Linked DNA regions of Homo sapiens. The protein of the gene in region 1 interacts with the protein of each later gene in a pairwise test. Each region holds a gene or a part of one and is shown on either strand. Other genes may lie near its edges.

Region 1 (4,616 bases):
AAAAGATCAAAGGGCTTAGAACTTATACCCACATTTTGGGGATAGGAAGAAGAGATGGAAAAGAACTTGATAGAAGGCTGTTGGAAGTGATGGACAAGCAAAGGAGTAATACTAACATGAGGCCGAATAACATAAACCCACTAACAGAGCGGCAAGGCTGCTACCTCAGACTGTGAAAGGAGTTAGGCAGAAAAGGCTGAAAAAAGATACGAAGGGTTTCATAGGTAAAGAAGTAAGGGAAGAAAACTCAAGCTTGAAAGAATATCATAACACAGTGGGGTTTAGGGCTGGGTGACCCTCCCAACACCCCAGCAAGGACCATATCCTACAGCCACCACATGAGGTACCAGTGACATGGGGCTCATTTCTAATTAACATGCTCCAGAATCTTGCAAAAAGGTTTTTGAACAGTGTGACCATGTGACATCATAATTTTACATACAATTTATAGGAATGTCCAGAAAGAGAAGTGTATGACCCGTCTCCAGTATCTCCATTCATCTGCTACTATGATGACAAATATGAAATTCAGGAGAGAGAAAAGAGACTAAAACAAAAAATAAAAGGTATGTTGCTAGACTTCTTGTTAGATCACATTTGCAGTAGTTTCTAAATTTCTTTGTTTGTACTGTCTTTGCCTGCTTTGGGGGTCATTGGTTAGCATAGAAAGTATTTTTAGTAATTACCAAAGAGACTGGAACTTTCTTGATCTCCAGAAACCAAGCACCCACTTCAGAAATAATCCCATGTTGCAATCTCCTCACAGTAAACATTTTTTTACAGTGATCATTTTAGGAAATGTCCAGAAAATATTGCTGTCCATCTATATAGGCAGAGTTTTTAAAGGCTCCTTTGAGATTTTTCTGTTTGACAGGTAATTATTTTTTTTTCCATTTGTATTTCTCCAGTATTTTTTTATGGAAAGAAAGGCTTTCCTGCTAAGTTATTCCTGGAGCTTCCCTGAAGAAGTCATTTGTTAGAGGCCACCGCTGCAAGCAGAGCTCCAAGTTCACAACCACCTCTGTGGTTTCTGTACTTACTGTTGCAAACATTGTTCTTTATCACCAAATTAATATCTTATCATTTAAGTTTTCTCTACCTCTGTTCTTTCTTGTTATTCACTTCAAGGTGGTTTTCCAAGTTATCTTTCTTGCTTTAAAAACAAAACAGTTCTGTATTTTTTTAGTTTGTTCTATACCTTATTTTCTGACTCTTTTGGCCTTTTACTCTTCTGGATTCTTAGTTCAGGACCTTTCCAAAATGAAGGTACTAATTCTGAGGAAAATAGAGTTATTACTCTCCCAGCTCCTGCATATTTTACATATTTAATATAAAATGTATGTCATCTACAGCTATCCCTGGATATTGGTTCCAGGAGCCTCCTCATTTACCAAAATCTGCACTTACTTATGTCCCATAGTTGACTCTGCAGAACCTGATTATAGGAAAAAGTAGCCGTTCGTATACACAAGTTTCTAATCTGTGGAATGGTGTATTTTCAATCCTCATTTGGTTGAAAAAATCCACATTTAAGTGGACCCACGTAGTTCAAACTCATTGTGCAAGGGTCAGCTGTGTGGAGAAGTTATAGTAGTTGTAGATTATGATTAGGCAACCAAATTAGAGATTAAAAAGAATTGCATGAAAATGTCATCTCTAGATTAAAGGATTATATGTGCTTTCTGTTTTTTATGTTCTTTGTACTTTTCTGTTTTTTCCAGGTTTTCTATAATGAGCAGTTATAACTTATAATTAGAGAAAACCCATTTTGGTTTTTTTTTAGCTAGTTGTATCGACGTCTGTAGCATAAATCCACTTTGAGGTGTTCACTATGATCCTTTGAAATTTTTATAATAAAAGTCTATGCTAAAAGTTTTTATTGGCCACTTTTTTAATCTTTAAAGATTCTATTGACTGCTAGTTTTCATCTCTCACTGTAACCTCATCTCCCACCTACCCGTATCAGAATCACTATCAGAGATCCGTATTAAGCGTGTCAAGCTCTGACAAAACATTAACATCAGCTTTATCACTAAAACCTCTAAGATACCCGCACTCACGTGCACTCACACACACTCCTCAAAGCCAGTGATCTCTACCCTGGAGGAATAATCTCTTGGGCAGTTTGGCATCCACCTAAAAGTACTATGGCCAGGCCTTATCTTTAGAGGGTGGTTGAAATGTCATATGAGACCATCAAAAGGCCATTTTATAAATCTTGCTTTGCCTCATTTTCAAAGGCTGACTCGTCATCATTGGGGAAACTCGTATTGGTCAGACATGACTTTTCTTCACAAAGCTAAGATGATTACTGTTCTTACAGGTCCTCATCTCCATTGCTTAACCTTGTTAAACTGTTGAAAAGGATAATTAACTATCATTGGATTTCTGAATGTGTTTCATTTTTAGCAATCAGAAACTTGGAGCTACAACTATTTAATTTTTAGTGAGTGATGTCATACTGTTAACATGTTTAAATATCTAGCTTCCCTGTCTGTTAAGTTATTTACACTTAGGAAAGCTCAGCATGGACTGTTTAGCTGCTGAATATGCAAAAATACTTTTATATTTTTCAGTACTCAAGAAAAATGGGGTTATCCCAGAGCCATCCAAGCTACCTTATATAAAAGCAGCAAATGAGAACCCCCACCATGATATAAGGAAGGGCCGTGCCTCATGGAAAAGCAACAGGTGGCCTCAAGAAAATAAAGAAACACAAAAAGAAATGAAGAACAAGAATAGAAACTGGGAGAAGCACAGGAAGGCTGACAGACATCGTGAAGTGGATGAGGATTTTCCCAGGGGCCCCAAAACCTACTCTTCTCCTGGCAGTTTTAAAACCCAGAAGCCTTCTAAGCCCTTTCACCGTTCATCACATTACCACACGTCAAGAGAAGACAAGTCTCCCAAGGAAGGCAAGAGGGGCAAGCAGAAGAAAAAGGAGAGGTGCTGGGAAGATGATGACAATGATAACTTATTTCTTATTAAGCAGAGAAAAAAAAAGTCTTAAGCCGTCAGGCAGCCTCTGATGTGGCTTTTCATTGTTCATTTGGCCTTTGTGTCTATAACCTTCTGGCACTGTGTTTATTATCTATGATTAAATAAAGTGAGTTTTTGGTTTTGTTTTTTTAATTTCAGCCATTCCTAGAGTTACTGAATATCCATGGAGATCTCAATTCTCTGTGTCCAACAGGATATTAGGTAAGAAAGTACAAAGATAAACCTGGACTTCTCCTATTCCAATATGTCATCTTTACTCAGAATCCTAGGGATAGGTAGAAGAATTCATCTTTTCAAGAAAGTGTTTTAAAAATACTTTGGGAAAAAAACTGCATCAAAGGTAATTTATCCTCAAATTAAATCCTTGCAGGAAGAGAAATTAACACTAAGAAAAAGTCATCAATATTTTTCAACTTTTTTTTTTTTTTTTTTTACTTTGGAAAGGACAATAACTATAAACCTATATCCAGATTTTCTTTCTGCTGAAGCTGTTGTCAGAATCTTCCTTTGGACAAAACATCACTAGCTGACTATAAAAACAAAAGTGTCATCATTGAAGCCCTGAAGAGGCAGGGAATTGAGCTTCAGCAAAATACAGGAAAAGAACTATCCAGTATAAATGTCAGAAGACAGATTTCCTAAACAAGTAAAAGAGACATCAAAAATTTTAACATAATCACAATGAAATCATTTTTTACCACTTTTACAGCGGTGTTTCAAGCGGACTGTCACTCAGATCTGCAGAGATGAATATTACTCAAAAAATTTTTTTGTTCTCTTGCATTTTTTTCAACTACCGCAAAGCTATACAGATTTTTTTGTACTTGTGGATCTTTTGTACTTCTCATAACCTAATGTCAGACTAAGAAAAATAAAATATCTGAGAGTAAATACATGTGTTTATTATGTAAAAAGACAATGAGAGTTTGAGTGACAAAGAGCATAGTTAATGTTTATTTTGTTTGTTTGTTTGTTTGTTGTAGAGACAAGGTCTCACTGTGTTGTCTAGGCAGGTCTCAAACTCCTGAGCTCAAGTGATCCTCTTTCCTTGGCCTCCCAAAGTGCTGGGATTACAGGCATGAGCCATCACTCCCGGCCTTGGCATAGTTGTGTTGGGCAGGTGGATAAAGTTATAAAATCCCTGTAGACTGGAGTCAAAAATGCCATTTTTGCCCAAGTGCAAGCTCTCTGCCAGAATAAAATGGTATGAAATCAATTAAATAGGACAATTTTATAATGTCAGGTTCTTAAATTTGTATTTTACTCTTTGGGAAGTATGCAGATTCCTGTATTTCTGGCAGAATCATCTCTCATCTTTCTGAGAGGAAGGAAGAATTCTGTCCTCTCAAATCAGTGCTAGTGCAAATTGTAGGATCACAGAGTTTAGTCTACCACTTTCCCTGTTGCTGCATAGATTTCAGCTAACTTTATTATATGTTGATGCATAGCTTCCTAATAGCTAGAGTTGTTTTCACCCTAAAGTAAGCAACCAGGGTTTTTTTTTTAACAACTTGCTAAATGTGGCAGCCATAAAAAAAGTTTCATGGAAGTGGAAAACCTTGAGATAATTGGCATTATTCTCCAGTAGGACTTGAGGCAAACATGGCTTATTACTC
Region 2 (7,000 bases), on another chromosome or scaffold:
CACCATGTTGGCCAGGCTAGTCTCGAACTCCTGACCTTAGGTGATCTGCCTGCCTCAGCCTCCCAAAGTAATCCCAAAGCCTGGGATTACAGGTGTGAGTCACTGCGCCCAGCCTAAAGACATGAGATTCTAAAGCTGAACTGCCCAATGTTGTAACCACTAGCCGAATTTGGATACTGAGAACTTTAAATGTAGCTGGTTCTTCCAAATTGAGACAAGATGTAAGGGTAAATACATGCTGGATCTTAAAAACTTAATTTAAAAAATGAAAACCATCTTAATAATTTTTACATTGATTATAGGCTGAAATGACAATATTTTGGATATACTGGGTTATATAGTTTTAAATTAAATTAATTCAGCTATTTCTTCTTACTTTTGTTACTGTGACTATTAGAAAATTTAAAATTATTTAGCTTACATTGTATTTCTATTGGGCAGTGATGCTCTAGAAAATGAAATAGTCATGGGTACTCCATCAGTTATGGAAATAGGCAATGATGGCAGTAAAGCAACAAATACAGATTACCCCAGAAGGTGTTAAGGATTTCATTGTACAATGAAAAACATCATTAAGATTATATCTACTGAATCAGTCATTTTCCTTACGTTGTGTGATACCTTGTTACGAGTTTACTTTCCAAATCTTTTTTGATTTAGTTTAGTTTGTCCGTCAGAGAGTGTTATATTTTAAAAAAAAGTTAAATGCTGCCTTTCACTGCCTGTTGTGTAGCGTACTTAGATTCTGGAAGCAAATATTTCTTAGAGGAGCATTGATAATATGGCCACTTCACTGTTAGTTTTATTGTTTTCATATGAGTATGAGTGAGGGTATGAAAGCTCACAGTAGCTTCTTAAGGTTCCTTCTGACTTAAATGTTCATTATCTTTTGATGAGTGAATGAGCAGGAACTTTGCATTCTTTAGAAACTAGTGTATCACGGCCGGGCGCGGTGGCTCACGCCTGTAATCCCAGCACTTTGGGAGGCCGAGGCGGGCGGATCACGAGGTCAGGAGATCGAGACCATCCCGGCTAAAACGGTGAAACCCCGTCTCTACTAAAAATACAAAAAATTAGCCGGGCGTAGTGGCGGGCGCCTGTAGTCCCAGCTACTTGGGAGGCTGAGGCAGGAGAATGGCGTGAACCCGGGAGGCGGAGCTTGCAGTGAGCCGAGATCCCGCCACTGCACTCCAGCCTGGGCGACAGAGCGAGACTCCATCTCAAAAAAAAAAAAAAAAAAAAAAACCTAGTGTATCACTTTCTTATTTTGCAGTTCAAAATATAAAATCTTTGAGGATGCTTGAATTTCTAGACCTTTATCATATACTTAGAGGTATATTTGCTGATAGTTGTGCATTGATACTGTGATAGCTTCTTATTCTCCCGTGAAGAACTGATCTGAAGTCATGGAGCTTTAGTTACCTGCTGCTCTTATTCCACCTTGCAGTGGCTATCACATTCCTACAGGTTTTCAACACAGCTTCCCATGAAGTTCCATTCACTGAAAGATATAGCTGGCTCCATTCCTTACAGAAAAAAGAAACTAATGCCCTGCTTGCCAACTTTTGGCTGTCTAGAATGGAATGTTATTCTGCACGGGAGGAAGCACGATGGAAAAGGGTTCTTCTACCTGCAGGAAATCTAATGTTTGCTTTGTAGTGAAGCATGCGAAAAGTTGAAAGAAAGGAAGCAAAGGAAGAGGCTTGGTCATTAGAAGTTCAGTTTGTGTGAGATTTCCTTTTTTTCCTTTTTGTTTTTCTCTATCCTGTTATACCATCATGGTATTTTAATTTTTTTTTTCCTAGCTAATGGGTAAATTGCTTTTATATTGGTGTTTGGGACCCACTGTGAATACCATGGACAGATTCACCGGAAAAAAAAAAAAAAAAAACAACAAACCAAGGAGGAGAAAAATGTTGTTTCTTCTACTTACTTCCCATCATTTTGTGAAGGAGAGTCAGAAAAGCTGTTTTCTACACATACTCCCTTCTCCCTCAACCCATTCACAGTGATTTTTGTCAGCAAACTAATATGCCATTGATTTTACAGTTAGGATCAGAAATATGCACCATTCTTGACTTAACCGATTTTTTTCCCCCTGAGAACAATATCATTTTTACACTAGAGAATATGTGCAAAAACTTATTATCTACAAAGCTGAATGTATTTTGCCCTTGCCGGGAACATAAAGGGTTAAATTGAAGGCTCAACAAAGACTGGGATGAAAAGAGGACAAGTTGGGGGGCCATAGTTGTTTCCTGTAGGCATTCACTGTTTTGTAGCCAGTGGCATTTTTTTTTGTCCTCATCACTAGCTCCTTTAACACACCTCTGGGATTTGCTCTGAGCTTGGCTGAACACTCTTGACCTTTGATTGTATAGCAGGGACAGCTTTATTTTATGAAGCTCTTCTGATTCAGACACATTTTGACATGGCCTAAAAAGCCATTCAGTAAGTAGTAAATGCACCCTATTTCTGAGTGGGATGCAGGTTATGGATGTGTTAAGGCTCAATCAAGGTTCTGTTAGGAATTAGGACTGGTGTGAAACTCCAGGATACTGGGAGAGGGTTGAGAGTGAGGCCTGAGGTAAGGATCCGGGATGGAGGAAGAGGCTTGCAATGCCTGTGGTGGACATTATCTGATAAATTTCATTTAGTGATTTCGGCATGAAACAGCCATATTAAAATGCCCTTTCTGGCTTATTAAATAGAAGCTACTCAGTACATGTTTGTTGAACTTAGCTTCTTAACCGATGATACCTTTTCAACCCTGCTTCTCTTCTTCTATAATTTGGGCCCCACAAGTTACCCAGATTATGGTTGACAAACTTGAGTAGCACTGCACATTTTAGTCAAGTGAGTCATATTTTTGAAGGAAAATGAGGTCAAATAAAGACTTGGTAAACATAAAAAGCCCCTTTGAAATCTCCACACAACTTTTCACCATTTGGTTTCTTTTTTGCTCTCTTTTTACTGTCACATGAATTGGTACAAGTTGTTTTAAAATCTCCAGACCCCAATTCCATGGCCCCCCTCCCCCCTTTTTAAATTGGGTTAATAGTCTTTAAAGTCCATTTTAGTTCTAAAACATACTGATTTTAACACCTCATTCACTAAATAAATTGCTTTTTTTCAGGCACTATAATGCAAGATAAATAAAATTGTCTATATTTAAAAATGTATTTACCAACTTTCAAATATAGGCTTGCCTATATTTTAATTGTAGTGTATGCATGATGCAGACCTTTGGGACTATAACCTTTGATTTCAGCATTATAAAATGTCAGGTCCCTTGGCAGAAACCACTTTAAAATGGGTGAGACCTGAACTCAAATCCTTGGCTCTGACAAGTACTGGCTGTGTGACCTTAGGCAAATTACTTATTTTTACCAGGCTTCAGTTTCCTCATTTGTAATATGGTGATACCAATGTCCTTTATAAAGTTACTGTAAAGATGAAGTGAGATAATGGGATGTAAATTGTCTAGCGTGAAGCCTGGCCTACAGGAAACCCTCAATACATGTTACCTAATGCTACTGTCTGAAAATGTGTCCCAGAATCTCTCTAGCCAACATAAAAACACATTTTATGATGTAACTCTTTACATCATAAATTGAGGAGTATTTCAGTCAATAAATGTTTATAAATAAATTAACGGTCAGATGTATTCCAAGTGGAAATGGACCTGACATTTTATTTTTCTTTGCAGATCTTATATTGCACTTTAAACACACCTAAAATTGACATGGAAAGACTCTTAGGAGGACAACTAGGACTAGAAGATTTCATATTTGCCCATGTGAAAGGAATCGAAAAAGAAGTGAATGTGTATAAATCTGAGGATTCACTTGGTCTCACCATTACAGATAATGGTGTTGGCTATGCTTTTATAAAGGTAAGTTTTAAAAAATAACAGTGTAACCTAATTGAGGATAACATTTAAGAAAATCTACCAGGCCAAAGAAAGTTAGAAATGATCTTCAGAGTGAGAGCCCGCTCAGCAAGGATGCATGAATTGGTAATGTTTCACTTTCATTTTAAAAATGTTCAGATGTCAGTTTGTGTTTACTATTTTCTTAATTTCTTCCCTTTAGTTTAAACTTCCCCTAGAATTTAGAACTAACTGAAAGGAAAGTCTAACCCTGGTGCCTACTCATTATCCATATAAGCTTTTCCATGTCTGTAGGTTTTAACATCTGATGAATTTCTGGCTTATTTCCATTGAATTAGTGTTATTTTCCAACTGTTCCTAGTTTTGACTGCCTTATTTACTTCTTTAAAAATGCCCTTCAAAATTTTAGGAAGTATATAAAGTTGGATCTCTGTATCTGTAGGTTCTGTATTAGTGGATTCAACCAACCACAGATTAAAGGTAGTTGAAAAAATGGCATCTGTACTGAACATGTATGGCCTTTTTACTTGTCATTATTTCCTAAACAATACAGTACAACTGCTTATGTAGCATTGCCATTGTGTTAGGTATTATAATCTAGAGATGATTTAAAGTATATAGAAGGATGTGGATAGGTTATATGCAAATACTACACCATTTTATACCAGGGACTTGAACATCAGTGGAATTTTAGTATTGATGGTGTGTCCTGGAACCAATCCCCCATGGATACCCAGGGCCAACTGTAATTCCTTTATTCAAATACAAAGAGAGCGATATAGAGCTTCAAAGGCAAGATAAAAGTTTGAAATGGTGTGAAACTAAGAACTGAGGAGAAAGGTAGTCTCATCTCTTAAAAATAACAACTCTATTATTGTAATAGTTATAATAGTAACAGACTTATATTGAATGCATGTACTAGGCACTTTGCATACAATTTCTCACTTAATTCTCACAATTCTATTTGGTTGGTATTATGTTTTTTCTTTGTATTTATTTTTTTGTTGCAGTATAAGACATTTTTAATGTACAGCTTAATGAATGTTTACATACTTATCCCTGTTTAACCATCACCCAGATCAGGATAAATTGCATTTCTGCCACTCAGAAGGCTCATTTGTGCCCCTTCCCAGTCAATAATCTTTCCCCGCAAAGTAGCCATTATTCTGGCATCTATTGCCATGAACTTCATATAATCATATATTATATACTCCACTATTTTCGGCTTCTTTTGCTCAAAAAGATGCCTATGAGATCCATGGATAGGTACTATTTCCAACCTTATTTTACAGATGTGGAAACAGGCTCAGGAAGGTTAAGTAGCTTGCCCAAAGTTATACAGCTGGACACATTCAGGATTTGGATCTATGAGGTCTGACTTCAGAGCTGGCACTTCTATTCACTCGATTAAGAATTAATGATAGATTTCATGCAACAGGGAATATTTTGTGCCTTTATTTTGTCCAAATCTTGATTTGCTGATGCATTGTCACCATTAAATAATCTTAGGGAAGTTATCTTCTTAACTGTAAATGGGACTTTCGCTACCCACTTGATAGAATGGCTATTTTTAGCTCTGCAAAAGATATGACTGTGCTGAAGGTTGAGTGAGTGACCAAATGGAAAATCTGTGACTGGGAAAGTCATATGGGATTATCCAAGGGAAGCTCAGGACATGAGGCACAGGCAGCAGAGAAGGGCTTGGAAGTTTCACAAACGTGTGTGGATTTTTAAAATCTTAGCCTCTGACATTCAGAGCTTGTCTTTCTATTTTTTAAAAAATGCTTTGTCAAACATGTGCCTGACTCAGAGTACTAGTCACTAGCCCTGTGGAGATATAGGGCATGTTAGCAAAGGAGAAAGCAAGGCATAATCTAAACTGCCAACATATAGTTCAACTTAGAAGAGAGATGCACATTATACTGTATACATGGTTGATGAAATTTTTTAAAAATTGGGAGAGGATAATTTCAAACTTACATAAAGATTGCAATAATAATACAAAGAACTCCCATAAATCATTTATCCAAATCTCCAATTTTTACCATTTGCCATGTTTGAGTTTTTTGTTCTGTCTCATACACACACATATATATATATATACTCTTTACCCCTTAGTACTTCAGAGTGTAATTACTAAGAACAAGGATATTCTCTTACATATAACTACAGTACAATTATGAAATTCATACAGTCTAATATTGATATAATACTTTTAAACTAATCTATAGTTCACATTGTAGTCTTATCAGCGTCCTAATTGTGTTCATTATTTTCCCCTCATACAGGTCCAATTTAGGATCCTGTATTTCATTTATGTCTTTTTAGTCTTCTTTATAATCTAGAATAGTTGTCATGTCTTTTTAGTCTTCCTTAATCTAGAATAGTTCCTCAGCCTTTTATAGGATGTCCCTGAATTTGGGTTTTTCTGATGTTTCCTCATGTTGATAAATAGATTGTGCATTTTTGGTAGGAAAATTACATAAGTGATGCTGTGTCCTTCTCAGTGCACCACATCAGAAGGTACATGAAACTGGTTTGTCTCATTGTTTGTGAGATTAACTTTTGTCACTTGTCTGAGGTAGTGTCCACTAGTCTTTTTCACTACAAAATTATTTTCCTTTGTGATACGTAATTGTGGAGAGATGCTTTGATATCATGAAAATACCCTGTTTTCTTACTTGCATGGCACAAATTTAGTATCTGTTGATGAGTCTTACCTGAATTAATTTTTCCTATAATGGTTGAAAAAATGATGATTTTTCTAATTCCATCACTCCTTATATGTTTCTCTGAAAGCATTTTATGGTAGGGAAAAAGCTGCCCTTATTTATTGTCAACATGGGTACATGACTTCGTGTTTTACTGAATGGTTTATAGTCTGTTACTATCAATTATATTGATGCTCAAATTTCCTGAGACTTGGCCTGCAGGAACCCCTGTAAGTGGGCCCCCATGTCCTTTTGACATGGCTCCTATCATTTTATTGAGTAGGTTCTTACTTTCTAGAACACAACAAGATATTCTAGACCCATCTTGTATCTCCTTTTCCCCTGACCTAGAATCAACTATTTCTCTCAGAAGCTCTGATTTTTACTAGAGATTGAT

Evidence for each region.
Region 2: the proteins of ZCCHC7 (region 1) and GIPC2 interact in binary tests that used the Homo sapiens proteins (3 or more experiments, as listed by UniProt).

The regions. Positions count from the first base shown.
Region 1 is NC_000009.12:37,354,259-37,358,874, forward strand, and holds the end of ZCCHC7 (zinc finger CCHC domain-containing protein 7), read left to right. Parts: intron 1-451; coding exon 452-566; intron 567-2,576; coding exon 2,577-3,010; 3' UTR 3,011-3,891; downstream 3,892-4,616.
Region 2 is NC_000001.11:78,076,966-78,083,965, forward strand, and holds part of GIPC2 (PDZ domain-containing protein GIPC2), read left to right. Parts: intron 1-3,709; coding exon 3,710-3,895; intron 3,896-7,000.